Linked DNA regions of Homo sapiens. Each later gene encodes a partner of the first gene's protein in a complex. Each region holds a gene or a part of one and is shown on either strand. Other genes may lie near its edges.

Evidence for each region.
Region 2: TAF1B (region 1) and TAF1D share a complex: the UniProt entries of both Homo sapiens proteins name them as parts of the transcription factor SL1/TIF-IB complex.
Region 3: TAF1B (region 1) and TAF1C share a complex: the UniProt entries of both Homo sapiens proteins name them as parts of the transcription factor SL1/TIF-IB complex.
Region 4: TAF1B (region 1) and UBTF share a complex: the UniProt entries of both Homo sapiens proteins name them as parts of the pol I pre-initiation complex.

The regions. Positions count from the first base shown.
Region 1 is NC_000002.12:9,916,195-9,923,609, forward strand, and holds part of TAF1B (TATA box-binding protein-associated factor RNA polymerase I subunit B), read left to right. Parts: intron 1-2,846; coding exon 2,847-2,917; intron 2,918-3,403; coding exon 3,404-3,626; intron 3,627-7,415. UniProt on the Homo sapiens protein: Component of RNA polymerase I core factor complex that acts as a GTF2B/TFIIB-like factor and plays a key role in multiple steps during transcription initiation such as pre-initiation complex (PIC) assembly and postpolymerase recruitment events in polymerase I (Pol I) transcription.
Region 2 is NC_000011.10:93,738,271-93,745,972, forward strand, and holds the start of TAF1D (TATA box-binding protein-associated factor RNA polymerase I subunit D), read right to left. Parts: upstream 3,226-7,702; 5' UTR 3,052-3,225; intron 1,062-3,051; 5' UTR 1,035-1,061; coding exon 967-1,034; intron 230-966; coding exon 1-229. UniProt on the Homo sapiens protein: Component of the transcription factor SL1/TIF-IB complex, which is involved in the assembly of the PIC (preinitiation complex) during RNA polymerase I-dependent transcription.
Region 3 is NC_000016.10:84,183,651-84,191,934, forward strand, and holds the start of TAF1C (TATA box-binding protein-associated factor RNA polymerase I subunit C), read right to left. Parts: upstream 3,408-8,284; 5' UTR 3,251-3,407; intron 1,934-3,250; exon of another isoform or gene 1,832-1,933; coding exon of another isoform or gene 1,830-1,831; intron 1,411-1,829; 5' UTR 1,340-1,410; coding exon of another isoform or gene 1,339-1,339; coding exon 1,201-1,338; intron 129-1,200; coding exon 47-128; intron 1-46. Other genes in the region: ADAD2 (adenosine deaminase domain-containing protein 2), read left to right, coding at 7,581-7,998. UniProt on the Homo sapiens protein: Component of the transcription factor SL1/TIF-IB complex, which is involved in the assembly of the PIC (pre-initiation complex) during RNA polymerase I-dependent transcription.
Region 4 is NC_000017.11:44,209,548-44,216,962, reverse strand, and holds part of UBTF (nucleolar transcription factor 1), read left to right. Parts: intron 1-258; coding exon 259-434; intron 435-973; coding exon 974-1,057; intron 1,058-1,153; coding exon 1,154-1,309; intron 1,310-3,680; coding exon 3,681-3,745; intron 3,746-4,023; coding exon 4,024-4,144; intron 4,145-4,508; coding exon 4,509-4,619; intron 4,620-4,956; coding exon 4,957-5,090; intron 5,091-5,215; coding exon 5,216-5,357; intron 5,358-5,631; coding exon 5,632-5,673; intron 5,674-5,810; coding exon 5,811-5,924; intron 5,925-6,015; coding exon 6,016-6,171; intron 6,172-6,489; coding exon 6,490-6,645; intron 6,646-6,728; coding exon 6,729-6,839; intron 6,840-7,229; coding exon 7,230-7,318; intron 7,319-7,415. UniProt on the Homo sapiens protein: Recognizes the ribosomal RNA gene promoter and activates transcription mediated by RNA polymerase I (Pol I) through cooperative interactions with the transcription factor SL1/TIF-IB complex.

The DNA.
Region 1 (7,415 bases):
ATTTTACTGAATGTAAATTATACCTTAATTTTTAAAAATGAGGAAACATATGCAGACAGACAAGAGAGAAATATATAGATAACATGTAACTGGAAAACATGGTTTGTGATGTGTCTCCTTTTGTAGTTTTATGTAATGAGAAAAGGCAGGCAAGGTAAAGTCAATTTTGGAAGAAGCTTTCATTTCAGGTATCTGAACACTTAAGAGTATTTTTATTTTAGATCACCTTTCCCATTCTTGGGGCATATCACCCCAAGGGCATCATAATGCTTTCTTGATCTGTGGCATGATTGCCACTTGTGTAGGCATTTACTGTAAATGCATAAGAAACTTCCATTTAGATTAGGTATTCACAAGGAATGTTTAACAGTGAGTGTGCCCAGGGATTGGGATTAGACTGTTCAGGGAACTTCTTTATCCTTTGAGATTTTATTATTTAAGAAAATTAATGGCAAAAAAATATATTTTAAAGAATCGCTAACTCATTTACCATAACATTAAATGACAAACTCTCTGATATATTTTAAATGTGGTATGGTTCACTAAAGTTTAGTTTCACATGATTTTCAGGAAACCATCTCCTGTATAACATTAATTACATCTCTACTGCTACCTAATGATTAGAAAAATTTCCTTTCTGTTCTTTTTTTTTTTTTTTTTTGAGATGGATTTTTGCTCTTGTTGCCCAGGCTGGAGTGCTGGAGTGCAATGACACGATCTCGGCCCACCGCAACTTCCGCCTCCCGGGTTCAAGCAGTTCTTCTGCCTCAGCCTCCCAAGTAGCTGAGATTACAGGCATGTGCCACCATGCCCAACTAATTTTGTATTTACTAAAGAGACGGGGTTTCTCCATGTTGGTCAGGCTGGTCTCAAACTCCCAACCTCAGGTGATCCTCCCACCTCAGCCTCCCAAAGTGCTGGGATTACAGGCATGAGCCACTGCGCCCGACTCCTTTCTGTTCTTAACATTTAATATCATTGCAGAAATTCAAAATAAAAAGTCAACATCTGTTTTATGTATAGTCATGATTTTACTGACTTGATCAAGTATTTTTTAAAATTCTTGAAAAAATCAGTTCTTAAATCGGTTAAAATGATTATTTGCTAAATGATATTACTAAAATATTGTTAAAAATGTGTGCTTTTATATACGTATTACTTCCTAGTATTAAAAATAAATGGTGAGAAATTATTATAGATGCTACAGATTTTTAAAATATTTGTATTTCTGGCTTCCTATTTTTAATCTGTTTTTCTGGAAAGTTCACAGATATTTCTTGAGTATCTACTAGCCAGGCACTTTGTCAAGTACTAATAATAATTCTAATTATTGTATAGGATTTAAAGAACCAATACATACAGCATCTTATTCTTCAGAATAACCCTGTGAAAGTAGAGGATAAGTTTAGAGATGCTAAATTCATTTCTTTGTTCATTTATTCACCCAATTATTCTTCAACAAATGTTTAAATGAGTTCCTACTCTCTACCACTCCCTGACAACACTAGGGGCATAAGGATGGCTGAGACAGTCTCTGCCTTTAAGAACCTCCATAATTTGTCATTCAAGGTCATGCCACTAGAAAATGGTGGAGCCGGCCGGGCGCGGTGGCTCACGCCTGTAATCCCAGCACTTTGGGAGGCCGAGGCGGGCGGATCACGAGGTCAGGAGATTGAGACCATCCCGGCTAAAACGGTGAAACCCCGTCTCTACTAAAAATACAAAAAATTAGCCGGGCGTAGTGGCGGGCGCCTGTAGTCCCAGCTACTTGGGAGGCTGAGGCAGGAGAATGGCGTGAACCCGGGAGGCGGAGCTTGCAGTGAGCCGAGATCCCACCACTGCACTCCAGCCTGGGCGACAGAGCGAGACTCCGTCTCAAAAAAAAAAAAAGAAAATGGTGGAGCCAGGTCTTCTGATTCAGTACTCTTTCTTGTTGCCACAGTGTCTTTCAAAATAAGAAAATGGCCTGGGATTAAGAAGAAGGTGGATTTTTAAAATTATTATAAGTTATGAAAGTTCTCTGCTCTAGGGAACACAGAAATAATAAAAATGAGACCAAGAATGAACCTTGTTGTCTTTGTTCCAGAGCAGCAGCGTCTGCTTGGCAAAGTTTAGCAACAGCCACTAGAACTAGAAATAGAACATGTCACTTCCTTTTGGAGTCTGGAACTGATCACCCTCATCTGTAGGAACCTTAGATGGCTCTTAGTGTTTGTCCTGGAGGGAACCCCAAGAGCCAGAGCAATCCAGGATCCCCATTTTACAGTGGAAACTCCCTGGCCATCCTTCCCTTGGCAAGAATAGGCTGAGTCAGAACAGGGACTACTGGGACTGTGTCATCCTGGAATCCAGTCTTTTCCTCTCCTTTACACCAGGAATAGAATAGATTTCCTGGCATCAGATGCCAGAGAGACGCATTTACTGTTCACTGTGTGTAAGTTATCAGAATCAGAAGTACTACTAACAACTCTCAGCAAAAAGGCATTGGGACAAAGGCAATGAGGAACAGTTGTTTCTGAGGTAGCTTCACTTTATGAGAATGAGCAGCAAGGGAAATTTATGGTGAAGGAAACAGTTTCTATGTTTTTTGTATAATTAATAGCTTCTTCAAGATGTCACAGCATCTGGGTGGCTTTTGAGAGGAGCACACCATTCTCTTGGCCTGGGCTGTTGGTCAGTGGTTCCTTCTAGGGCCTAAGTTCAATAGGCAATATAGACATGTGCCAGTAGGCCATTCCAAGCCAGAGCTATAACGAAATATCAGAAATCTCAGATAGTGCTTCAGACAATGTGTTTATGTCCGTTTCATCTCCGTCCTGCTCCAGCTGTTTCTTTACCTTGTACAGGTACCTGTGGAAAAGTGAAAAGCCACTCTACTACTCATTTGTCGACAAACCAGTAGCATATAAAAAAAGAGGTAAGTCAAATTTTGTCTTTTTAATACCAAGTAGCAACACAGTTGTAGAAAAATTAAATATCTGGACTTGAAATGTTGAATGCTTAAGTTTTTTACTTTTTTTAAACAAATGTTCCAGGGCACATGTACATCCAAAGGAGCATCATACTCTGCAAGAAATCTCTGCAGGAATCTACTTCAGGAATATGTCGTTCTTCAAAACAGAGCCTCAGTTCCTGCCAAAATCTAAAATCCTAAATCGTTATGATTTTGGAAATTCTTTGCTTATAGAATTCCTTTTAGACTGTACATTCTTTTTGAAGTAAGGTTTCCCCCATGCACCTCATCCAGTTTCATTTTCCCTTAACGTTATCCTGTTACATTACTGTGGTACATCTGCGAAAACTAAGGAACCAATATTGGTACATTCCTATCAAGTAAATTCCAGGCTTTATTTGTGATTTAACATTACTTGTTATTTTGTTTCCTTTTTTTCTCCGGTTCCAGAAATGGTGGTGAATCTACAGAAACAATTTAGCACACTGGTCGAGTCAACAGCAACTGCTGGAAAAAAAAGCCCTTCAAGTTTTCAGTTCAACTGGACTGAAGAGGACACTGATAGAACGTGTTTCCATGGACACAGCCTTCAGGGAGTCCTGAAAGAGAAAGGCCAATCACTGCTGACTAAGAATTCATTATATTGGCTTAGTACACAGAAATTCTGCAGATGGTAATAATGCTTTTAGAAAAAGTCACATATAATTGAAGTAGTTGACTGTATAAGAGCCAGATAGGTTTTTTGTTGGAATTAGAAGCTGGTGAGCTTAAAGTCACGAAAATCAGAATTATACATTGAGTCTTGTGTAGGAGTTCTAGGAAAGCTGGTAAAAATCAAGAAAGAGGATACAGGGCAATTAGCACAAACTATCCCCTCTAGCTAAATTAACCTGCAGTGTGGCAGGCAAGCAATAGAAGTGGCTGTAAATGCTGATCAGGAGAATGTGCTGTATTTTTTAGTACATATCACTTCTCTGAGTCAGTTACCTTTATCATGTCTTTCTACCTCTTAATACTTCCTTAAGTATTTCCTAAAAATAAGGATATTCTCTTAAGTGACCACAGTACAGTTATCAAACTCAGGAAACTTAATACTGATACGATACCTTTATCTCACCCACAGTCCATATTCCAATTTTCTCATTAGACCCCCAGTGTCCTTTTATAGCAGGATCAAGTTCAGGAGTAGGTATGGCATTGATTGATTTTATCTCTTCGGTCTCCTTTAATCTGATTGTCCCTCAGCCTTTCTTTGTCTTTCATGACATTGAGCTGTATTTTTCAGAAATGTCAGTGATGTTACACAATGTTTCTGAGTATGGTTGTGATGGTTCCTCATGTTTAGATTCAGGTTCTGCATCCCTGGCCAAAACAAGTGCCGTGTCCTCCTCAGGGTATCATTTCTCAGGGTATGGCGTCTGTAGACTGGGGCGGGGGGCGGGGGGTCCATTTGCCCCTCAGGTGTTAATAGTGATCACCCAGTCAAGGTGCTGTGTCGTTTTTCCACAGTGTAGTTACTATGTTTCCCCTTACAACTAATAAAAAATCTGCAGGGAGATACTTGGTCAGTGAAATACTCTGATCTTCATTCAACTTTGTCCCCTTGATTTCATGTTTTATGTTCTGTCCTCGTATCTGTCGAGTGTGGGCATGTGAAGTCTAGAAAACAACACGCGCTTTTATGGTTATTGGGTCTGGATAAAATAGGACTAAAGATGGGAAGCTGCACTGAGGAGAGGAATCTGTGTAGGACATAGTGGAAAACTTGTATGTCTAAATAGTAAGACACAGGCTTTTGACTTCATCAGGTTTAATTAATGATCGGCTCTGTGGCATACTGGCTCTTAGACTTCCGGCTTAGTAATAGGCTGCCTTCTTATTTTTGCTTTATTTTTTCAGAAGAGTTATATATTCCCTATAAACGGTCGATATTGGAATAATACAGTGTAAATTCTTAAGTAATTTATGAGGTCTTGCTGTGTCACCCAAGCTGGAGTACAGTGGCACGATAATGGCTCACTGCAGCCTCAACTTCCTAGGCTCAAGCAATCCTCCCACCTCAGCCTTCCAAGTAGCTGGAACTACACGTGTGCACCACCATACCCAGCTAATTTTTTATTTTTTGCAGAGACGAGGGTCTCCCTATGCTGCCCAGGTTGGTCTCAAATGCCTGAGCTCAAGCAGTCCTCCTGCCCCAGCCTCCCAAAGTGCTGGGATTACAGGTGTGAGCCACTGCGCCCAGCCATCTATTTTCATATGACTCAGAAAATTTCCTCAGGCAGTAGATAGTGAAGAACATATTACTCCCCAGAGCACATTCGTTTTTCTTTAATTGTACTGAAAATCAACTCCAAAAGTATTTTTTGAGTACTTGATAAAAATAAGTCATTATCCTAAGTCCTAGATAGATACAAAGGTAACTCAGGAAGTTTGTTTTCCAAGTCCACTTGAAGAGAAGATTTTTTTAATAAGAGTATGTTTTCCCCACTTTCCTTCTGTAGTGTCTTAATAGCTGTAGAGAGGAGTATATGGATTAAAAATTACAGAGATAATCAGTGGGGTATACAGGTGTTTACCATAAAATTCTTTCAACTTTGCTGTATGATTGAAATTTTTTATAATAAAGTTTGAGGAGAAAAACTAAAAAGATTCAGGCTATGCCATGAAGTTTTTTTCTCCTTGCCTATTTTAACTTTTAGTTCCGTTTTATATAATAATAGCGAAAAGGCCATTCAATAAAATAGTTCTGTGACTTTGAAGTTACTTTACCTTTCAGTGTCTTCCTGTTAAAAATAAAAAGACTAGACTAATATTCCCTCACTAAAGTTCTCAGTAATTAACGTGTGAAAAATAAAAGCATAAAGGCTTTTCTCATTGTGACTATATTTAAAGTAATCTCATCCCCATATTGACATAGAAATTGCCCAAGAGGAAATTTTCTAGTAGCTAAGAGGACTTGCTATAGAATCATAGAATCGGGCTGTTTCTATCCTAAGTCTGCCACTTGCTAATTGTAGGAAGGTTACTCACTTCTCTACAGCTGTGCTGACCCAGTTGTAAATGTGGGGATAATACTGATCTTTTCCTCTTCTCAAAACCTTCAGTGGCTCCCATCTCATTGAAAGGAAGACCCAAAAAACATTGTGGAGCCAACACGGCCCTCTTGACCTTCCCTCTGCTGTCCTCTGACCTCCTTGCTGTCACCCTATGTTCAGAGTGACCTCCCAGCTGCTCCTTGAGCTTACCAGACACTCCCCACATGGGCCTTTGTACCTGCTCTGCCTCCTGCCTAGAATGTTCTTTCCCCCATGTATCCACATGGGCTCACTTCTTTCAGGTTTTTGCTCAAATTTCACTTCCTTGGAGAGATTTTTCTCAGCCATCCTGCCTAAAATAGCACCAATCATTCCCCCAACACCCCTCATTATTCTCTGTCCCCTGGCCTATTTCATTTTTCTTTGTAGTTTTCATCACTATTTAATAGAATATATTATTATATATTTATTTTGCTTATTTATCCATCTCCCCACACTAGAATGTAAGGGCCTTGAGAATGTAAGGACTACTAGAATGTAAGGAGGACTCTGTTTTATTTAATGAAAAATCCCAGCGGCTAGACCAGGGCCTAGCACAGACTAGGTGCCCACCAAGTATTTATTGAATGAATGAATGGAAAATAGGGCCTACCCCAAGTTCTTGTGAGAATTGAATGAGGTATTTGATGTGTGTCACATAGTAAGTACTCAATCAAACATAAGTATGACCATTATTATTTTAAACAAAGCTAATTTTCTGTTAACTAATGTTATTTCCTGGTCTGGGCTTGGTGGCTCCACCTGTAATCCTAGCACTTAGGGAGGCTGAGGCAGGTGGATCACTTGAGTCCAGGAGTTCGAGACCAACCTAGCCAACATGGCAAAACCCTGCCTCTACTAAAAATACAAAATTAGCCGGGTGTGGTGGTGCACGTGTATAATCTACTCGGGAGGCTGAGGCATGAGAATCACTTGAACCCGGGAGGCATTGGTTGCAGTGAGCTGAGAGCACACCACTGCACTCCAGCCTGGGCGACAGAGCAAGACTCCATCTCAAAAAAAAAAAAAAAAAAATTATTTCTTAAGTTGGTATCAATCAAAGATAATTGAACTGTAGAAAATACAGTGGGAGATGATAAAGTTGTCTATATTAAGATTTGCTGCTTAAAAAAAAAGTTGAGCTGCATCTACAACGATTAAAGAGTGGCACTGTTGGCCGGGCACGGTGGTTCACACCTGTAATCCCAGCACTTTGGGAGGCCAAGGCGGGCAGATCACCTGAGGTCTGGAGTTCGAGACCAGCCTGACCAACATGGAGAAACCCCTGTCTCTACTAAAAATACAAAATTAGCTGGATGTGGTGGCGCATGCCTGTAATCCCAGCTACTTGGTAGGCTGAGGCAGGCGAATCACTTGAACCCAGGAGG
Region 2 (7,702 bases), on another chromosome or scaffold:
GTACCTCCTCTTTTTCTTTTTTTTATATCTCTTTTTCCTGTTCTTGAATCTTTCAAAAATAGCTTTTATAGTCAATGGTATTGGTTCAAAAGATGAGTCACTTGATGAATCACTTGCGTGAACACTTTCAGGTGTACGAACAAATTTTCGAATGGGGTTTCTTTTCTCCCCTTTAGGTGAGTAAGGGATACACTGAGTTTTAAATAAGCTGCTATCAGAAGAGTTATCACTAGAAAAATGGGAAAAAAATTAATTTCATCTTCTTTTCTTACTGCTTATTACCATTAATACCCAGTCCTAAATGTACATTTCTTCCAAGACCAACTCAGAAAACATGCCCAGAATTAAAAATTTTTTAAAGGATGGGCTCAGAACCAGCTAGCCTTTCTACTGATCATCCTATTTAAATAGCCCATAATGCTACAGCTCTTATTAAAGAGTTTTGTAGACATCGTCTTGCTGTCACCCAGACTGGAGTGCAGTGGTGCAATCACAGCTCACTGCAACCTCAAACTCCTGGAAACTCCAGGGATGCTCCTGCCTCAGCCTCCCAAGTAGCTAGCTAGGACTAATGGCATGCACCACTATGCTCAGCTTACAAAAAAACTGTATCTTTCAAGACAATGTATGAGCTCCAAAAGGCTGTATGGTTCGGTTCACTGCTAAGAGTGTCTGAGTAAAACAAACACAGCCTACCGAACCGGAGGATGTAGTCTGGAAGAGATGCTAATATGACCCAAAGAATACATTTTTTCTCGACGAATGTGTCCCATAATATATTCACATTTTGAATTTAAAGTATTTGCAATGCTATTATATCAATCTATGTAACTAGATAAACTTGGAAGGTCAGTGAAATCTAGTTTTCCTTCTTTCCCAATTCCTGAAAATTATCTTTACTGTCACTCATTATATACAATAGTTTCTCATAATTCAGATACAATAAACATGATTGAATCCACTCACCTTCGATTTGCAAGTTCCACAGCATCAGATGTCACATGGTCAAGAGAATCTATTCCTGATTTATCCATCAATTGCTCTTTGTTTTAAACAGTTTTCTGAAATTATGAAATTTAGTAAATATGACAAAGCTTCCCTAAATATTGACAGTATCTACTACAGTGTTGAACGTGGTCAGACTATGCCAATGATTTCAGGCGAAATCATTTACCAAGGTTAAGCTTCTTATCCATTTCAGATCAGTTTCTTTAAAAAGAAATCCAGAAATTCTATTCACAGGTTCTTTCAGTTGTTACCCTCTAAATGTATTCAACGCAACAAGATTCCAAAAAAGTACCGTCCCTTCCAACAAAAGCATCTTTCAATATAAGTAAAAAATGTAGTTTTATCATTAGCCACATATTTTAACGTACAATTACCAATACAGTATTAATGTACAATTAAAAGCCGTTTTCCAAGATCAAAGGGGGAATTCCTAAAGCAAAGTGTGCCCTATATAAACCAGGAAAAGGATCTCCAATCAATAAACCATTTTAAACTCCTAATCACCTCTCCATTATAATTCCTAGATTCTTCATTCCTAGATTCATTTAAGCAACTGAACTTTGTCATATTGTATCTTTGCCATTATTGGTGGAAACTGACAAGTTCTGAATTCTCAACCTTTTTCAATGAACTATCATAATTCTTGTGTCTTCATCCCCATGGTAGAGAGTATACAACATACCAAAAAAAAAAAAAAAAAAAAAGAAAAAGATTCCTTCTTGTGAGCTAAAAGAAAAAAGAAAAACAGGTTGGTCTGGGTGGCTCAGGCCTGTGTAACACAGCACTTTGGGAGGTCGAGGCGGGCGGATCGCTTGAGCCCAGGAGCTCAAGACCAACCTGGGCAACGTGGTGAAACTCCGTCTCTACAAAAAATACGGAAATTAGCCAGAATAGTGGCGCGCGCCTGTGGTCAGGAGGCTGGGGTAGGTGGAATACCTGAGCCTGGGAGGTGGAGCTTGTATGTAGTGAGCCTCAGCAACACAAGGAGACCCTTGTCTCTACAAAAAATTCTTAAAATACTGGCTAGGTGTGTTGGCCCGTGCCTTTGCTCCCAGCCACTCGGGAGGATCGCTTAAGCCGCGGTGGAGGTTGCTGTTAGCCGAGATTGCACCACTGCACTCCAGCCTGGACGACAGAGCAAGACCCTGTCTCAGGAAAAAAAAAAAAAAAAAAAAAAAAAAAAAAAAAGGCATGGCAACAAAAATTAAAGATAACTACTTATTTCATTATTGTACATGCCTTAGTCAATCTCTTGTCTCATTCTGTAGCTTCTTGGGACCTGACATGAGTCATTACATATAAATCCTAGGATGAACTAGCAAAATATTTAAAATATGAAACGATAAGGTCACCAAGAGCTCAGATTTGTTAAATGCCCCCTGTGGTATTTTCCTGGTACAAGGTCTTACTAGTTTTTTTAAGTACAAGATTCTACAAAGTCATTAAATATCGAATGCTCAAAAACGGAATTCAACAAAAATTTGCCCCCATGCTTTAACGGTATACCTGTAGTTAATTTTTTTTAAAAGTAGGGATTATCAAAATAAAGCTAGCTCAATAATCACTTTTTCGAAGTGTTTAGAAGACACTCCTACTTGGGTGTCGATGCCTCCGTGGGGATTCTGCAATTCTTAGAGGCCACGTGGGCAGAGAGCGGCGCTTTACCCGGAGCTAACGCTGTGACCACCAGCGCCTCTCACCCGGCAGCGCCTAACCTGCAGAAAACCGGCGCGAGTAATGGGTACCTCACATACGAAGGTTAAATCATTTAAATCACGTAATAAGGTTAAACTTGTCCGCAACACGATTTAACACCTCCATCTCAAGATATAATGAAGCCCGTCCACACTACAACCACGTTTGTGTGGGACTCATACCAGCCGCGTGGCGCGGAGTGGCCTGCGGCCGTGATCCCTTCACCCTCTCGGACCGACTTCGGAGTCTCGATCCTCCGGACCAACGAAGGGGCCCCGGGAAACCCCAGATATGCAACGCCTCCCCCGCCCGCCAGGCCCGGACGGCCTCGCCCTCTTAGCAACCTACCTAAAACGGCCTCGCAGTGGCCCCAACCGCGCACTTGCTGCTTGTAACCCAGGCCTCGGCCCAAAACCCGCGACTGGCCTGGTGTCCTAGAGCTCTGTACACACCACCCTCCCGACCTCAGCCCTCCAACTCCCGATAACCAGCCGACCTCCTCCAACCGTGCGGAAGAAAAGGGTTGGCTATTTCCGTGGCCCAAGTAATAGTCAGGCCGAAATCTCGCGATACAACTTAGCTTCCGGGAAGAAGGCGAGCGGTGGGAGGAGACGCGACGTGGGGGCGCCATTTTTCTCGCCGCGCAGGGAGGACTGACTAACGTGGGCGGAGCTCTAGCTCGCGTATTCTGAGGAGGCGGGGTTGGCCTAGGCGAAGATCCGGACTCTGGGTGTTTTGCTACCGTGACCGTTTAGGTGAGTGGAATAGCCAAGAACATTTCGGCAAATAACAAAAACAAAACGTGCGGTCACTTGTGAGTGGATGAGAACTGTGAGGAAACAGCCTCTCAGCCCGGTTCGTTTCCGGTGGTCTCGCGTTTGCTGAGCTGTCGCCTGGCTTTCTAAATCTGGTCCCGGGTGTGTGGCGAGGGTGACGGGTGGGATGTGTGCCTGAGTGTTTTGTAATCCTTTGTCTATTTCTGCCTTCAGAAACCCTTGTGTGTTAAAATATTGGAGAAGGCTCATTCTTTGACCATGACTCGAAGTGTGTAACCTTTGTGCTGGACGCCAGTGTTATTCCATAGCACGCCCAGGTCTCCTCCCCACTTTTGCACCTGTTTCGTAAGCTCACCCTTTCTGCCTCCCAGGAGTTGGCTAACATGTCACAAGTGAGACCTGTGGAGGATTTGTTTTTCCTAAGTTTCCTCCTACATCCCCCCTGCCCCACACCATTAGTTCCTTGACCGGTTCCTGAGTTAAGATTAAACAGTGTAAACTAGTTTAGTTTTGGTGGGGTTTTTTTCTCCCAAAGTAATTTTTTTTTTTTTGAGACCGAGTTTCGCTCTTGTTGCCCAGGCTGGAGTGCAACGGTGCGATCTTGGCTCACCGCAACATCTGCTTCCCGGGTTCAAGCGATTCTCCTGCCTCAGTCTCCCCAGTAGCTGAGATTACAGGCGTGCGCCACCATGCCCAGCTAATTTTTGCATTTTTAGTAGAGGCGGGGGTTTCTCCATGTTGGTCAGGCTGGTCTCAAACTCCCGACCTCAGGTGATCCTCCCGCCTCGGCCTCCCAAAGTAATTTTAAAAAGGAATGAACTGGTTTGATTTTTCCGCTTTCAAAATTCTGTTTTCATATGATAAACCACAAAAATCAGTAAAGCTGTCTAGTCTTATTTTATAGTTCACATTTTAGGATTGAACGGGCCTTAAAAGTAATCTGGTCTCTTTACCTGCTTTGCTCCATAGTTTGGACAATTCCGGGGATAAAAAGTCCGATCCTTTAGGCAGCCCACTGCATTTGATCCACAGGGTCTGGGCAATGACGAAGCTCCAGGACTGGTATGGCATGTCCCTCACTGCCGTATTCAGCAGCAAGCCTAGCTGTGTAATTTGTGAGGCTCAATGCAAAATGAAAATGCAGCGTCCCTTGTTCAAAAAGAAGGGGAAAAGTGCTATTAAAGGGAAGGAACATTTAACTCCTAATGCAGAATCATTGAAATTTCACATTTCATTTTGTATTTTTTCTTTTTTCTTTTTTTTTTTAGAAACAGAGTCTCGCTCTGTCGCCCAGGCTGGAGTGCAGTGTGGCCCGATCTCAGCTCACTGCAACCCCCACCTCCCGGGCTCAAGAGATCCACCCACCTCAGCTTCCCAAGTAGCTGGGACTACACGCGCCCGCCACCACAACCGGCTAATTTTTGTACTTTTAGTAGAGACCAGGTTTCACCATGTTGGCCAGGCAGGTCTCGAACTCTTGACCTCAAGTGATCCGTCTGCCTCGGCCTCCCAAAGTGCTGGGAGTACAGGCGTGAATCACCGCGCCCGGCCACATTTGGTATTTCTCTGTTTGTGTTATAGAGACAGGGTCTTGCTCTGCCACCCAGGCTGGAGTGCAGTTGAAGCAGGATATTCCTCTGACCCCTTCGTGGGTCTTGCGGCTGCGGTGCCTCACTTACTTAGCCCACGGCTCTCAACTCCTCGCGGGAGGGGGGGCGCGAGTGAATGAGGCGGGAACTGGAGTGCTGGAAGCCACGAACTCCAGTCACCCAGGCCTGCTGCGCTCCACCCTTTATGGGAGGGTGCGTGGGGGTGAGCAGATGCTGGAGCCGGAGCGAGCGCTTTTGGTCGCCGGTAGGAGCGAACTCCATGCAGGCCCTGCGGCTGTGTCTAGGGGATGCCCGCGACCCCTGAAGACCCACAGCCTGTCTTACAACCTGTCATGGTTGTGAAAAGTTTTGAGAGAACGTCTGCACAGTGTCTAACGGTGTCTGGTATATAGTGTGCACTCAAATGGTAACCAGTTTAGTTGCGATAGTTGGTCTACCCCTCCAGGTGTTAACCTCTGCAGCTCCGTTTCCCTTCTAGACCCTATTTCTGGGCCATCGACTCCCACCAATTAGGCAGGAAAATACTGTTTGCCTCCATCTGGCCCAAGGCTGTATTCCTGGAGTTTATGTGAGAACCTAACTCCTTTCTCAGCTCCAACTGTAACCCTCTCCCCACCTCCAACACACACATAAACACTCACATACACATGCTACCACACTGCCTGCTGTGCCATCAGCCTGCCTGAAGTTCACATCATTTTAGAATTGGACGGGCCTTCATAATTTAAATTTTATTATGAAAAAGTGATAGTCTAAGGAACTCATTTGATTTTTTTGTCTAAATGTCAAATATAGAGTAGAACGCACAAGTGTCTGTTATAGAAATACTTGAGAGTCCTATATGCACTGTTATCCACAACCATTTAAGCACTTATCCACTAATCCCTAATAAGTACCCCTAATAAGTACATTTCTAAACCAGTTATTCAAGCTACATCCTCCCAAGATTGGACTTTGTTTCTACTTTGGTAGGGACATAAATAAACGGAAACAACTGACCTAACTTTTTACTAAAGAGATAATAAAGGGAATAAAATTAAGATTACATTTGGATTTTAACTTGTGTTCTTATTCCTACTGCCAGCAAAAATATGTAAAGTGTTTTTATCATTATAAATGAATATACTATTCATTGTGCAGATTTTGACATGTTCATAAATAAGTTAGTACCCAATGTTTGCTTGATAAAGAATGTGATAAAATGTTAACATTTGGGAAATCTGGGTGAAGAATGTATAGGAATTATTTGTATGTAATATTTGTCAATCTGAAATTATTTAAAAGAAAAAGTTAAACTGTCTCATTCCTGAACAATTATAAATTATTCAACCCAAAACTGAAGGGGGCCTGCCCCTCCACACCTGTGGGTATTTCTCGTCAAGTGGGAAGAGAGACTGAGAAAATAAATAAGACACAAAGTATAGAGAAAGAACAGTGGGCCCAGAGGACGGGCACACTCAGTATGCGAGGACCTGCACCGGCACTGGTATCTGAGTTCCCTCAGTATTTATTGATTACTTTTCACTATCTCGGCAAGGGAACTGCGGTGGGAGAACAGGGTGATGGTGGGGAGAAGGTCAGCAGGAAAACATGTGAGTAAAGAAATCTGCGTCATAAATAAGTTCAAGGGAAGGTACTGTGCCCAGATGTGTAAGTAGGCTAGATTCATGTTTCTCTTTACCCAAACATCTCAGTGTAGCAAAGAGTAACAGAGCAGTATTGCTGCCAGCATATCTCCCCTCCAGCCACAGGGTGGTTTTCTCCTATCTCAGAATAGAACGAATAGTCGGCTTTACACGGAGACATTCTGTTCCCAGGGATATGCGGGAAACAGAGGCCTTCCTCTTTTACTAATCCTTCTCAGCACAGACCCTTTATGGGTGTCAGGCTGGGGGACGGTTAGGTCTTTCCCTTCCCACGAGGCCATATCTCAGGCTGTCTCAGTGGGGGGAATTCTTGGACAATACCCACGCTTTCTTGGGCAGAGGTCCCTGCAGCTTTCTGCAGTGCATCATGTCCCTGGTTAATAGAGAATGGAGAATGGCGATGACTTTTACCAAGCATACAGTCTGCAAACATATTGTTAACAAGGCACATCCTGCACAGCCCTAAATCCCTTAAACCTTGATTCAATACAGCACATGTTTCTGTAAGCACAGGGTTGGGGCTAAAGTTACAGATTAACAGCATCTCAAAGCAAAACAATTTTTCTTTGTGCAGATCAAAACGGAGTTTCTTTTGTCTTCCTTTTCCACATAGACACAGTAACAGTCTGAGCTCTCTTTTCCCCACACAAAACTATGTTTAAAATAATTTAAGTATGATTATATAAGATTTGGGGGCCGGGTGCAGTGGCTCACGCCTGTAATCCTAGCACTTTGGGAGGCCGAGGCAAGTGGATTGCTTGAGCTCAGGAGTTTGAGACCAACCTGGGCAACATGGTGAAACCCCGTCTCTACTAAAATACAAAAAATTAGCCGGGCATGATGGCACATGCCTGTAATCCCAGCTACTGGGGAGGATGAGACAGGAGAATTTCTTGAACCTGGGAGGCGGAGGTTGCAGTGAGCCGAGATCATGCCATTGCACTCCAGCCTGGGTGACACAGCGAGA
Region 3 (8,284 bases), on another chromosome or scaffold:
ATAGGTGGAGCAGTGTGGAGTGAGCCCGGGGGAATGAGACCCTTACCGATGAGGGGAGGCAGCATGGGGAGAGGCCCAGGGGTTGCCGGCTCCCACAGCAGGTCCTTGGTCACATGCAGTGCCCCATTCTGAAGGGAGGACAATCGCAAGGACAGTATCATGATGAATGCCCTCCCTGGGCCAGGCTGTGCACAGGCATTCATCTCTTATCAACTCATCCAATCCTCACAACAATCCTGCGAAGCTGGGATGACTGGCATTGTCATTTTACTGCTGAAGAAACTGAGGCACACTGCCATTTGCCCCAGAAGACAGAGCCGGTAAAGAGAAGAGCTGGGATGTGAACCCAGGCAGCCTGACCCCAGAGCTCCTGTTTCCGACCTCCACCTGTGCTGGCTCTCAAAGAAGGAAGCCCCTCATGCCACCAGTGGCTGGTCCACATCTCACGTAACCTCACTTCCATTCAGGAGACCTTGCAGTCACTCTGGGAGCCCGGCAGGCGGCTCCACCTCCCTTTGCTGGGCTGGCCTGGGATGTTTCGGCCCAGACATTCAGGGGACAAAAGAGCTAGGAAACCAGACTCCCAGAGGAGCCCCAATTTGACGCCAGACCCTCCCTCGTAAGGATGCCATCCCTGACCCCCGTTCCCCAAGCCTCTGCTCCACTGTCTCTCTTTTTATTTGCTCACCCACTTGCCTCTGCCAGGCTTCATTCCCAGACAGGGTGTTTCCAAGGGGAACTAGGCGGCTGAGGATTCCAAGCAAAGGGCCAGTGTCCCTCCAGAGGCAGCAGAAACCCTGCAGGTCTATCCTCCCCTCTCCCAACCCTACTATGCTGTTTCAGCATCCTTCTGCTTTCATTCCAAGCTCTGATCACATTTTGTAAACACCTTATCCATTGGATAAAGTTCACTTGTTTATTCTCGCTCAACTCAGCTCTCCGTTCCAGGAAGGGAGGGGTCAACCGACTGATTCAGGCAGCATTCTCACGGTCTCATAAGGGACCCGGCATAGTGGGGGCATCCGTCTAGGGATGGCAGGGTAGCCCATGTACCCCAGAGGAGGTGGCAGAGCCTGTGTCTCAGCAGACTCGTGTGAATGCCACCACTCTGTGGCCTTGTCAACTGATGTGAATGTGAGACGGGGGACCCAGGGAAGGGATGTCCCTGGAGCTGCCAGGGCCCCCTGCCTGCATCCTCACCTCTGAGTTCTGGGGCTGGGCCTCTGGCAGAGTCAGTGCGTCTCGCCAGCTGCACATGAAAGAGAGGTCAGGGACGTCGCTCAGACCAAGGGGGCCGGTCAGAAACAATGCAGGGCGGAGGGAGCTGGGGAAGTCCATCCTGGAAACAAGGACCAAGCACCACACTGGCCACCTCGAGAGACTGGAAGCTGGTAAGGGGCGCCAGAGTTCCTGAGGAGTGAAAAGTGCACTACGGGAAGCATATGTTCTTTGAGGAAGCAGATAACAAAAAACAAATATGTAGCCCAAGGCCAAGCAGTAGTGAGAACTGTATTAAAGCCAACCACCCGTCCAGGAGAAGGGGATCTGGTAGTGGGCTGAGGGCGTGGTTTCAGCAAAGCCAGCCAGGAAAAGCCTCGTTGAGAAGGTGGCGTTTGAGCACAGCCTGAACCTAGTGAAGGAGAGAACCATGTACGCAACTGGGAAGAGGGTTCCAGGCCGAACGGTCAACAACTGTGAAAATCCTAGAGCAGTGAAGTGTGTGAGAAAATGAGGCAGCCAGAGTGAGCGAGGTGGAGAGCGGTGGAGATGGAGTCAGAAAGACGGCAAGGGGCAGCCTCTCTCCCGGCTCGTAAGTACCGTCATCATACATTTACAGACTACACCCCCAAGACGCTCAAGTTACTCCACAGCCAGGGACTGCATCTGAGCATCGTCTTCCTACTGTCAAGCACAGTGCCTCCCAGAAAATGCACTAGGGGTTGAAAAAAATAAATTTCTATCACAAGGGGCCGGGCGCGGTGGCTCACGCCGGTAATCCTAGTACTTTGGGAGGCCGAGGCAGGCGGATCACCTGAGGTCGGGAGTTCGAGACTGGCCTGACCAATGTGGAGAAACCCGGTCTCTACTAAAAATACAAAATTAGCCGGGCGTGGTGACGCATGCCTGTAATCCCAGCTACTCGGGAGGCTGAGGCAGGAGAATTCCTTGAAGCCGGGAGGCGGAGGTTGCGGTGAGCTGAGATCGCGCCATTGCACTGTAGCCTGGGCAACAAGAGCGAAACTCCATCTCAAGAAAAAAAAAAATTACATCACAAGGCTTTGGTAAATACAGTCCTCTAGAAGTATGAGCAGCCATAGCATCCCTCCTTTTTAATTAACAAAAATAACAGGGGCAAAAATAACAGCAGCGCTCGCTGACCAAGCGCCAGCATCTATCTGCCAGGCACATGCTAAATGCTGCACTCTTCTATCGCCGTCCCTGTTAACAGAGTTCAGGAAACGAAGGCTCAGCAAGAACTTTAGTCCAACAGCTCTTAGCTGCCACAGCCAAGACTTGATTCCCATCCGATTCAGAGGCAGAGCTCCGAACCAGTGCTCTCGCATGCACCGAAATGCAAACGCTAGCATTAGAGTCTCGCTATACAAAAATCTTTTCCCTTTGGCCGGGTGCGGTGGCTCCCGCCTGCAATCCCAGCACTTTGGGAGGCCAAGGCGGGCGGATCACCTGAGGCCAGAAGTTTGAGACCAGTCCGGCCAATACAGTGAAACCCTGTCAATACTAAAAATACAAAAATTAGCCGGGCGTGGTGGTGTACACCTGTAATCGCAACTACCGAGGAGGCTGGGCACGAAAATCGCTTGAATCTGGGAGGCAGAGGTTGCAGTGAGCCAAGATCATGCCACAGCACTCCAGCCTGGGTGACAGAGCAAGGTTCTATCTCAAAAATAAAATAGAAACAAAAATATTTTCTCTTGGAACCGCATAGCCTGAAACGATCCTAGACAGGCGGAGGGCGCTGGTGGAGAGCACGACCCCACAAAAGCCCTCAGACAAGGCAGCCTCGACTTCCCCGGCCGGCTTCCCGCCCTCGCTGCGGGCTCTCCAGGACCCTTTAGACCTCCAAGGCTACAGAACTCAGTCGGATCCGCAATAACGACAGGCCGGGGACTGCGAAACGTGAGCCTGCCGCGGGGACTGGGGATTGGGGGCGTCCCTCCCCTCCTACATCTGCGGGTCCGCTCCTCGAACACGCGCAGTCCGCGCGGAGGGGGCGCATGCGTGCACTTACGTGACCCCGGCCTCGTCGTGGTCGTCTGGAAAATGGGCCTCGGCGTGATGCTCGCCGGACCCTGGCACCACGAGGGAAATCTCAAGTAGAACCCCAGCTTTGGCACTCGGGACGGGTCAGCCCCGCCGCAGCTACCCACGGTCTTCCGGTTTGGACCGGAAGTGCCTCCTGCGGAGGCAGGAAGTCCCGCCTCCCAGCCAGGCCTCTTAGGGTCCTGGCGCGCCCCCTCCCGGGAGGAGAGGGAACGGGCGTGCAGGCGGCGCGTGGGCAGCGGAAATAAAGCTCCCTTGAGTCCCAATAGTGGAGGCCGGGTGGACTTAGGTTCGAATCCCACATCTACTTCACCAATTTCCTCAGAGTTGTATTAAATTAATCATTTAACGAACTCCCACAGAACACCTACTATAAGCCAGACCTGTATTGGTCAGTAGGTATCCTACTGATTGTCCTTAAATCCCAAGAAGCGGGCTTTACAAATAAGGGTACAAATACCTACTAAGAGTGAAGCTTTTCCAGGGGTGGTCAGGCAGGGAGAGCTTTAGGCAGTGGTCTTCAAACTCTAGCTAGCGTGCGTCAGCAGTAGCACCTGGGGGGCTAGTTAAAACACAGTCTCCAATTCGGTGAGTCTGGGGTGGGACCTGATGATTTGCCTAAGTTCCCAGGTGATGCTGAAACTGCTTATCTGGGGGCCATGCTTTAAGAACCACTGTCCAGTCATGAACCTTACCGTTATCCTAACATAGTACTTCTCAAACTTCAGTGAGCCTTAGAACCACCTGGGGGGCTTGTTACAAGTTTGCTAGGCTCCACCCTACCTCTGCCCCCCGAGTTGCTGATTCAGTAGATCTGGGATGTGGCCCAAGAGTCTGCATTTCTAGCAAGTTCCCAGATGATGCTGGTCCAGGGGCCATACTTTGAGAACCGTTGCTTTAAAGAATCAATTTCCAAATTCTCAGCTGTCATCTATGTCTTTATTTATTTTTTTGAGATGGAGGCTAGAGTGCAGTGGCACGATCTTGGCACACTGCAACCTCCGCCTCTTGGGTTCAAGCAATTCTTCTGCCTCAGCCTCCCGAGTAGCTGGGATTACAGGCCTGCGCCACCATGCCCGGCTAATTTTTGTATTTTTAGTAGAGACGGGGTTTCACCATGTTGGTCAGGCTGAGTCTTGAACTCCTGACCTCAAGTGATCCGCCTGCCTAGGCCTCCCAAATTGCTGGGATTACAGGATGAGCCACCACGCCTGGCCTATATTGTTTTTATCTGGAAGTTTTTACCTGGACTAAAAGTGCCAGCAGGGCTGTGTTCCTTTTGAGAGGCTCTAAGGAAGAGTCCACTATCTTGTCTTTTCTGGCTTCTGGAAGCTGCCTGCATTCCTTGGCTCATGACCCCTTTCCATCTTCAAAGCCAGCAATGCCAGTCGGATTCTTCTCATGAGGCCATCTCTCTGGTTTTTACTCTTCTGTCTCCCTCTTTCCCATGTAAGGACCCATGTGATTATAGTAGGCCCGCCCAGGTAATCCAGGATAATCTCCCTATTTTATTTGTTTTATTTATTTTTTTGAGACAGGGTCTCACTCTGTCGCCCAGGCTAGGGTGCAGTGGTACCATCATGGCTCATTGCAGCCTCAACTTCCCAGGCTGAGATGATTCTCCCACCTCAGTCTCTCGAGTAGCTGGGATTACATGCAAGCACCACCATGCCTGGCTAATTTTCTTTTTTTTTTTTTATTTTGAGACAGAGTTTCACTCTGTCACCCAGGCTGGAGTGCAGTGGCGTGATCTTGGCTCACTACAACCTCCACCTTCCAGGTTCAAACGATTTTCCTGCCTCAGCCTCCCGAGTAGCTGAGACTACAGGTGCCTGCCACCACACCCAGCTAATTTTTGTATTTGTAGTAGGGACGGGGTTTCACCATATTGGCCAGGCTGGTCTTGAACTCCTGACCATGTGATCCACCCGCCTTGGCCTCCCAAAGTGCTGGGATTACAGGCATGAGCCACCACGCCCGGCCTAATTTTTGTAGTTTTTGTAGAGATGGGATTTCATCATGTTGCCCAAGTTGGTCTCTAACTCCTGGGCTCAAGCTACCTTCCCACCTGGGCCTCCCAAAGTGCTGGGGTTACAGGTGAGAGCCCTATTTTAAAGGCAGCTGATTAGCAACCTTACTTCCACCTGCAACCTTAATGCCCCCTTGCCAAATAATATACTCATAGGTTCTGGGGATTAGGCTGTAGACATCTTTGGGGGAACCATTATTTTGCCTACCACACTAATATTCTACATTACCCTTGTAAAACGCCTATCCAGCTTTGGCACTGCGAGGCCAGTTCCATTTCTTCCTTTCCTCCTTTCTCTGAATAAGCCATTATCAATTTGCTTTTGTAACTGACATATACTCAACATGCAGTAAAGCACACGAGTCTTAAATGTACAGCTCATTGAATTTTTATTCATACATAGAAACCCACATGAACACCACCCAGATCAAGACAGAGAACATTTCTATCACTCAAGAAAGTTCCAGCCAGGCACAGTGGCTCATGCCTATAATTCCAGCACTTTGGGAGGCCGAGGTGGGAGGGTTGCTTGAGTCCAGGAGTTCAAGACCAGACTGGTCAACAGAGCAAAACCCCCATCTCTACAAAATTTTTTTCTAAAAAGAAAATTCCCTGGTGCCACTTCCCAGTCAATACTTCCTTCAAGAAGGAACCACTATTTGGACTCTTATCACCACAGATTAGTTTTGCCAGTTCAAGAACTTTACATAAGTGGAATCATGGAGAGGATGTGTCTGGCTTCTTCCACGCCATGTGCCTAATAGATTCACCTGTGTTGTGTACGCAGCTGTTGTTTCCTTTTTAAATTAGTGAGTCGTGTTCCATTGTATGAATATACCATTGATTTGTTCACGCAACCTCCTGTTGGTGAGCGTTTGGGGCGTTACTGGGTTTGATGACTTTGTGGAAGTCTCTCTGTGGATATGTGCAGCCCTCAGTCCATTTCTGGACATCTGCTGTGCTGTCCCTTCACTCTCCTGGGCCTCATCCCACTCTCTGGGCTGCACACACACACAAAATGGAATTGTTCTTCCTGATGTCAATTCTTGACATGTTGGGGAGGCTGACTACCCAGCCCACCACACCTGCTTCTTCCAAGTCAAAGGTTCTGGGAGGACTCCACCACCTGGTCCTCATATGCCCCAGCATCCTCACTGTCACAATCCTGGAGAGAGCTGCCAGGCCCAGCTTCAGCAGCAGCAGCAGCAAGCACTGTGACAAATCTTACAGACACTGGTCATGCTTTCCCAAGTTAGTGGCTACTGTAAGACTCCGTTAAACTTGCAGCCTCCTTCAAGCAAATACGCGTTGCATCACAGTAAGCCTTGTGTAAATTGTCTTCATCCCTGTCTTTATCTTATTTTTCCTATGTCTCTTGATCTCTAGCTCTTCACTTTAAACAATTGTTATCTTGTCTTATTTGTATGAATTAACTCAAAATCCCTTCTTAGGGGGGAAAAAGGCAGAGTATCAAATGGCTATTTTCTTAAAAAAAATTATTTATTTATTTTTTGAGGCAGAGTCTCGCTCTGTTGCCCAGGCTGGAGTGCAGTGGCGCAATCTCAGTTCACTGCAGCCTCTTCCTCCCAGGTTCAAGCGATTCTCCTGCCTCAGCCTCCTGAGTAGCTGGGACTACAGGTGTGCGCCACCACGCCCACCTACATTTTGCATCAAATGGCTAATTCTTGGCTGGGGAACACTTATGTTTGGCTTCAGAAAGGCCTGCAGTGAAATTTTATATCCAATGATCCTGCTGACAGTGTGAACCCCTAATTCCTGTGTTGAAGTCTCCAGGCTCAGCCAGTGAAGCAGCTGAGCAGCCTGTGATGTGGAGGTGCCTAGGGGCCTAGGGCAGGAGCTAGAGTGTGAAACTGGACCTGACGCCCCCAGATGCTCCTCCCCCGCCTTGCAGGCTCCGCGACCACCCACGGTTAAAGAAGCAGCTGCTAGAGCAACCCCTCACCCACCCACCGGAACTTCCCTCCAGGCCATGGGACGTTGGTCTCAGCCGGAACTTCCGTCCAGGCAGTGGGACCTTGGCCTCAGCCATAAGCATCCAAGCCGCCGTCGTTGGGAGACTGGCCTTCCCATTGGCAGGGTGCACTGTCCATCACAGATCTCAGGGCTCTCATTGGCCATCGTATGGCAGGGGTGGAGCTCACCACGCTTCGTCCGCGTGCTCCCCACGTGAAGGCACCCGCCCTGCGCGTGTGAAAGGGCGAGAGCAGCGCGAGATAGGGCCTAGCGCCTCAGATCTTCGTTGGCGGCCATGGCTTCGGCTTCTCAGGGCGCTGACGACGACGGCAGTCGTAGGAAGCCCCGCCTGGCTGCATCGTTGCAGATCAGCCCCCAGCCCCGCCCCTGGCGACCGCTACCCGCCCAGGCCCAAAGTGCCTGGGGGCCCGCGCCCGCGCCCGCGACGTATCGCGCGGAGGGCGGGTGGCCCCAGGTCTCGGTGTTGAGGGACAGTGGGCCTGGGGCAGGGGCCGGAGTCGGGGAACTGGGGGCAGCCCGGGCGTGGGAAAACTTGGGGGAACAGATGGGGAAGGCCCCGAGGGTCCCTGTGCCCCCAGCAGGGCTCAGCCTGCCGCTCAAAGACCCACCTGCCAGCCAGGCCGTGTCCTTGCTCACGGAGTACGCGGCCAGCCTGGGCATCTTCCTGCTCTTCCGGGAGGACCAGCCACCAGGTGAGGCCGGGCCGGGGCATGGCTGTGCCAGAGGGCAGAGCCACGGAGGGCTGGGTCCCAGGACGTGGGGAGCAGGGGGTCTGGGGAAGGTGGACCTTGGTCCCTATGCTCAGAGACACCGCCGGAGCAGGACCTGGCCTGAGCTTGGGACCTTGGGGTGGACCCTGCTGTGAGCAGCGATCTCCAAGGATCACCAGCCACACCAGATGCTCAACTGTGAAAGAGTCATGGCAGGTGAACATTCTTCCCACCTGACTTCCAGGGAGGTTAAGGCCCCCTGGTATTT
Region 4 (7,415 bases), on another chromosome or scaffold:
TAATAGCCTTGAAGCAAGCCAGACTTGAGTTCGAGCCTGGCTTTCTAGGTATAGCATGGTCTGGACTGGAGTCCCTGCCCTGATCCAATATGGCCACAGTTTCCTTAGGGCTGAGCCATATCTTGTCTGTGCCTTCAGATGGGAAGCAACCAGGGGCTGGGATGCCCTAGGGAGGAAGAGTTGAGCACTCAAGAACTGGGGAACAGATCGGGGGGATAGCATGAGCCAGGCATGATGGCCTCTGTTACTCTTTACCAGACCGTTGGTCCCAGGAAGACATGCTGACTTTGCTGGAATGCATGAAGAACAACCTTCCATCCAATGACAGCTCCAAGTTCAAAACCACCGAATCACACATGGACTGGGAAAAAGTAGCATTTAAAGACTTTTCTGGAGACATGTGCAAGCTCAAATGGGTGGAGATTTCTAATGAGGTAACTGATCCCCCTTTTCTGACATACACACATACCCCCCACTCAGCGTGGTGGGGGAAGTGAAACAGGCTGTAAACAGGAAGGAAAGAGACCAGGAGAGGCATTCATGTGGTCTCCCGTTAGCTCTCTACCTGCCCCTTTGCATTTTGGGAGGTGGCACGGTTGACAGCACTGGCTTAAAGTTATGCCACTTTCTATCTGAGTGGTCTTGAGCCAAACAGCCTGAGCTGTGCTGAGATTGACGGAGGTGCTAGCATGCTGAGATTGACGGAGGTGTTAGCATGGACAACCAGGTTGAGGTCAGTTAGTCCCCTTGTTGCTGGCCTTTGGTGTGTACTGACTGCCTGGGCCTCTGCGGTAGGCATGGGCCAGTGCCTGGGTGTCATGCTGCCTGCTTCATTTGGCTGTTGGCCTCTGCTCTTCTTTGGTAAATTTAGTCTAGTAAAGAGTAGAAGAGACCCGTTATAAGATGGGGGTATACTACTGTGTGGCATTTTCCTTTTCCCAACTTCCCCTTCCTCCCACCCCTCTTCCTCCAGGTGAGGAAGTTCCGTACATTGACAGAATTGATCCTCGATGCTCAGGAACATGTTAAAAATCCTTACAAAGGCAAAAAACTCAAGGTGAGTTACTAGGAGGAGGAGCATGAGGGGTATGGGAGGAAAGGTCCAAAGAAGGGATGTATTTGACCTCCATTGTGTCCTTGTCCCTTCTTCCAGAAACACCCAGACTTCCCAAAGAAGCCCCTGACCCCTTATTTCCGCTTCTTCATGGAGAAGCGGGCCAAGTATGCGAAACTCCACCCTGAGATGAGCAACCTGGACCTAACCAAGATTCTGTCCAAGAAATACAAGGAGCTTCCGGAGAAGAAGAAGGTGGGGGGAGGAGAGTTAAGGTGGGAGGAGGGGAGAGGCTGGGAGCAGCTGGTGTGGTGTGGGTCAGTTGGAGGTAGGCCTTGGAGAAACCTGGCATCAGGGATGAGGGTGAGTCAGCACAGCAGAATAGGTCCTGGGCAGCCACACCTGATTGCCCCTTCCTCGGCCCACACATGGTCAGGCACAGGCACCATCACAGATGTAAACCAGACAGCAGGTGCTCAGACCAACCTTTCCCCCTACAGAAAACCCACAGCATTCTGTTTCAAGCTCTCTCTCCCCCATACACCCATCCTCACTGTTAGGCTCCGCAGCACTTCTTCACCCTCTATGACGTTTCCCGTCATGGTCTCATTTGATACTTGCAATGTCTTTATAAAGGTAACCCTAGGAAAAGGTTATCCCAGTTTTGTGGGCAAGGAACTGAGGTGCAGGAGGGTTAAGTGTCCCGGGTGACACAACTATTGATGCTAGAGCAGGATTTAGTGCCCCAGAGTCCCAGTCCAGTGCTGTTACTGCCACGTCCACCTGTGAAGTGCACTTCTCCACGCACACGTGTTCACTCAAGGACACACATTGTCCCTCCTGGCCTCATACTGTTCCTTGCAGAGGTCGGGCACTGTCCCAGACCATCAAAGCATTAACTCTGGGTGGAGGGTTGCCTAAGCCTCCCAGGCAGGGCTCAGTCACAGAGCTCAGGAGGTCCCTCCCAGAGATAGGCAGCAAAACATTGGAGGAGCCTGCAGATGGGACACGAGGAAGATGGGATGGGGACAGAGGACACAAAGAAGAGACACGGGACAAGGAGACAGAGCCAGGGATAGATGGGGAAGGGCAGCAGGAAAGACAAGAAGCACATCTGCTTGGAGAGGAAACAAAGTCATACACAGCCAGTTCTCAAAAGGGGGCACTGGCCGCTGCCATGCTATGAGTAGCCCTTTTTCCTGGTTGGCATACCCTGGCTGCAGACTCACATGCCCTTGGTGCTGTACCCAAAAAAGCCAGCTGTCTGCAACCACTGCCCAAGCAGAGAGGGGTATGGATTGCTGGAACTGTTGACCCCTTTGATGAGGATGTTGGACAGTTGACTGCACACACCCAAACACTCTCATGGGATGGGAGGGAGAGGCCAAGCTCTAGAGTCAGAGCCAGGGAAGGCCAGAAGAAACTGGTAGAGTGGACAAGGTGCTGTCCTGGGGGACACAAGACTTGGGCCTGTTCTCCTGGCTCTGCCACTGAACCGCTGTGTATGGGGCCTTTGGTAAGTCATTTCACTTCTGTGGGCCTGGTCTTTATGTGAGGTGAGCCAGGTCTGTGTGGTCCCCTTCAGGTCTAAAACTGTTTTGTCTGAGGAGGACTGAGATGGGGGAAGAGGAGGCTGAGCTCTGCTTCTGGTTTTCTGTGGGAACTGTGGGAAAGGAGCACTGCCTTTCTATGCCTGGTGCTTCTATAAGAGGCAGGGGTTGGGCTCAGTTGCCATGAGCTCCTGGCACCTGCCAGTGCCACTCTTGTGAGCCCGCGAGGATGAAAGAAGAGATGGACATTGTGTGGGAGCCAAGAGAGAAGGTCGATGAGGAAGAGAAAGAGACACATTGGAAAGGAGGAACAAGAAGGAGACTATGGAGAAGTGGGGAAAGATGCAGGGAGGGAGTGAGGTGAGAGTGGGGAGGCTAAAAAGGGGGTGATGAAGGGAAGGGAAGCCAAGTGGTGGGAAAGAATGAGTGGGCTGAGGGAGGGAGGGCTGGAGGGGCCAGACAGCCAGGATCCTGGAGAAAGAGAAGAAGGTGATGGTGTGAGAACTGGGCAGGAAGATGCAGGGTAGCTGGCTGAGACTTGTATTGGAAGAACTCGCTCTGGGTTCCCCTCCACACAATCTCCCCTCATGCCTTGGAAACAGGACTCAGCCCAGCCCTGGCCATAGATGTAGAGGCTACGTACAAGGGGACAGACTAATGTCAGCTGCCACAGACAGTGAGAAGAGGGAGTGACAGGAGCAAGGCCTGCACCCGACGCCACTGTGAGAGTTCTATGGTGTTGGAGAAACGAGTGGGGGAGGCTCAGCGCTGCCACTGCGCACTGTGTGACCGTGGGTAATGCCATGGCCCCCTTCTGGGACTCTTGCTCAGAAGGAGAGAATAGGATGTAGGATTCAGTGTCTGGGCGACCCCTGCAGCTCCCACCATCTGTGGTAGAAGCCAGCAGGTCTGCTCTGTGGTGAGTCCCGCCAGGAGGCGGGCAGGGCGCCAGCCTCCACTCCCTGCATCACAGCGTGGGAGGCAGAAGAGCCAGCGAGGAGGGGTCTGGGTGGCCTTCATAGCTCAGGGTGAGATACCCTTGGGTCCTGAGTGACCCCATCCCCTCCTCCCCCCAGATGAAATATATTCAGGACTTCCAGAGAGAGAAACAGGAGTTCGAGCGAAACCTGGCCCGATTCAGGTAAGGCAGTGGAGCCCAGAGGAGGGCCACGGGGCACTGGGGGCAGCAGAATAGGCTAACCCTGGCCAGAGCCTTGAGTTTGCCATCTCTGAGGCATGGAAGAGGATGGGTCACATGTGAGCCCTAGTGTGTCATGCTCAGGGACAGAGACAGGCAGGCAGCCACCGTCCCACTGAGCCCCAGCTGAAAGGCCCAGGAGGCTTGGTGGGTGGGGCAGCTAGCTTGAGTCTGCCCTGGCAGCGTCCCCTGCTGATCCTTGCTCCCCGTGTCCTGGCTAGGGAGGATCACCCCGACCTAATCCAGAATGCCAAGAAATCGGACATCCCAGAGAAGCCCAAAACCCCCCAGCAGCTGTGGTACACCCACGAGAAGAAGGTGTATCTCAAAGTGCGGCCAGATGTGAGTGTCCGGCCAAGGGTTGGGGGTGGAGGATGCACGGCGGTGGCCAGGGGGGAGCCGCGCCAGGTCGGCCGGGCACGGTGCAGGGGAGCAGGAGAGGAGGCCCCTCCCCAGGGGTGGGCTGCATGGACAGGGCCCGGGCCAGCTGGCGTGCAAGCGTGTGCGTGTGTGCGTGCGTGTATGAGCCAGTCCCCTTGCACCCAGGCGGGATCCCCGCCTCTCCGCCTTCCCCTCCTGGCCTGTGGGGGACACTGATGTGACCTCCCATGGCCTGAGGGGGCGGGGGCCTCTGTGCCCCCTTCCCCCTTCCCCCCTCCCCCTGCCCCTGGCTGCCTGTGCGTGTCTGACGGCTTTTGGTTTGCAGGCCACTACGAAGGAGGTGAAGGACTCCCTGGGGAAGCAGTGGTCTCAGCTCTCGGACAAAAAGAGGCTGAAATGGATTCATAAGGCCCTGGAGCAGCGGAAGGAGTACGAGGTTAGGCTTCCGCTGCGCTCCTCCCCGTCCGGCTCTTCACGAGCCTCTGCCCTCCGACTCCGTGGCCACCGCACTCTGCGGGAGGTGTCACTCCCCATCCCTCTGTTGAGGGAGGGGCCTTCTGGGCCCCTCACCTCTGCCCCTACCTTCCCCACCCCCCACCCCCATGAGATCTCAGGCTAGGGCAGGGCAGGGCACCACGTCTCGTGTGACACCACTGACGCGCAGCCACCCCCAGCTTTGCTCCCTGCCTGCCCTCCCCAGCGGCTCTCCCCCTGCCCCTGCCCTAGCTAACTCCACACCCCATTGCCCTCCGTCCCCCCACCTGGCTCTGCAGGAGATCATGAGAGACTATATCCAGAAGCACCCAGAGCTGAACATCAGTGAGGAGGGTATCACCAAGTCCACCCTCACCAAGGCCGAACGCCAGCTCAAGGACAAGTTTGACGGGCGACCCACCAAGCCACCTCCGTGAGCGCTGCCCTGGGATGGGTGGGCGAGTGGGCAGCTGGGAAGTTGGGCTGGGCTCTGCAGGTGAGAAGGCCTGCTGCCCTGCTCGCTTACGGGCTGCACCTCTCTCCCCGCGGCTCTGATAGGAACAGCTACTCGCTGTACTGCGCAGAGCTCATGGCCAACATGAAGGACGTGCCCAGCACAGAGCGCATGGTGCTGTGCAGCCAGCAGTGGAAGCTGCTGTCCCAGAAGGAGAAGGACGCCTATCACAAGAAGTGTGATCAGGTGAGCTGTGGCAGGGGCCACCCTGCCTTGGGGTTTTGAAGCATGAGGTCTGATCCCATCTTGGGCCAGTCAGTCCCTGGTGGCGTGTGCCTTGGGTACCTGCCTCCAATACAGTGTGGGGCTGGGCTGGGCTTAGCAACTGAGCCCGTCCAGGCAGGGAGTCCAGCCCACACCCAGGCTCTGGAGGCCCGCTGAAGGTCACTGTCCTCCGAGTACTGCAGGGTCTGTGGTGACACTGTCTCCAGACTGATCCTGACTCCACTCACTTTCCCAGAAAAAGAAAGATTACGAGGTGGAGCTGCTCCGTTTCCTCGAGGTGAGTGTTCCTCCGGTGGGGCAGTGGGCAGAGAAGACTGGGACTTGGCAGGCAGAGCCCTGGTGAGCCCCTGGAGATAGGGCACCATGCAGTCTGGGTGCCAGGCATGCAGCCCCGTGCTCCTCTTTCCTGTCCAGAGCCTGCCTGAGGAGGAGCAGCAGCGGGTCTTGGGGGAAGAGAAGATGCTGAACATCAACAAGAAGCAGGCCACCAGCCCCGCCTCCAAGAAGCCAGCCCAGGAAGGGGGCAAGGTGGGCAGAGGGTGCGGCCGCGCAGGCGGGGGTGGGCAAGACTGGGCTCCCTGGCAGCACCCACGGACCCCGACCCTCTGCACCTGGACAGGGCGGCTCCGAGAAGCCCAAGCGGCCCGTGTCGGCCATGTTCATCTTCTCGGAGGAGAAACGGCGGCAGCTGCAGGAGGAGCGGCCTGAGCTCTCCGAGAGCGAGCTGACCCGCCTGCTGGCCCGAATGTGGAACGACCTGTCTGAGAAGAAGAAGGTCAGGCTGCCTGGCGGAGCGCTGTGCCCCCAGGGGGGCTGCCAGGGCCCCCTCTTCCCCTTGGCGGGCCGTGCCACCTCGCCCCTGGCCGCCTGAGCCACGCGGTGCCTGGGCTGGGACGTGGGGCCGGCGCCCAGCAGCCGGAAGGCGGGAAGCTGTCAGCTGAGCGCCGCAGACCAGGCGGGGGCGAGCCCCAGGCGGGAGACATCTGCACCAGCCCATGCTTCTGCCCGCCGGCGGGAGCGCCTGGGCTGCTGCGCGGGGAGCGCGCGCCCCCTGGGGGTGGGTGGAAGGCTGACGCCCGGGCCATCCCCGCAGGCCAAGTACAAGGCCCGAGAGGCGGCGCTCAAGGCTCAGTCGGAGAGGAAGCCCGGCGGGGAGCGCGAGGAACGGGGCAAGCTGCCCGAGTCCCCCAAAAGAGCTGAGGAGATCTGGCAACAGAGCGTTATCGGCGACTACCTGGCCCGCTTCAAGGTGACAGGGGTGGGAAAGGGTAGTACTGCAGCCTCTAGCCCCGGGTGACCCCTCCCACGGCTGATACCCTTATTGGTCCCCAGAATGACCGGGTGAAGGCCTTGAAAGCCATGGAAATGACCTGGAATAACATGGAAAAGAAGGAGAAACTGATGTGGATTAAGAAGGCAGCCGAAGACCAAAAGCGATATGAGGTAGGAATGGGGCTGGGGCCACCCCATTCATTGAAAGCTCGGGAACTCCCCTTTGGTTGGGCAGCTCTGAGCAAGAAGTCCCAGCCTTGGTCTGTGACTCTCAGCAAGTCTCAGCTTCCTTCTCTGAACCTCTGTCTCTCATCAGTAAGGTGGGGGTGACATTGCTAACCTCCAGGCTGACTCGGAGGATGCGAGCAGTTGTGAAAGCACTTGTAAACTGTGGTGCCTGCCTCAGACGTGAGCTGTTAGGAAGTTGCTCACTAGCTACCTGTTTCTCCTCCTCCCTGGCACAGAAAAAGACAGCCAGCTAAGGTGCTGATGGCATGAGGCAGAAGGCAGCAGTATTTTGGGGGTGGGACTGGGGGGTGAGCGTGACCTTTCTCCCTCCAGAGAGAGCTGAGTGAGATGCGGGCACCTCCAGCTGCTACAAATTCTTCCAAGAAGATGAAATTCCAGGGAGAACCCAAGAAGCCTCCCATGTGAGCCTGGGGGTTGGAGTCTGCCCTGGAGGTCGGGGAGGGTCAGGGCTGGATGGCTGCTTTGTTGGGGTCCTGACCCTCCTTCTACCAACCCACC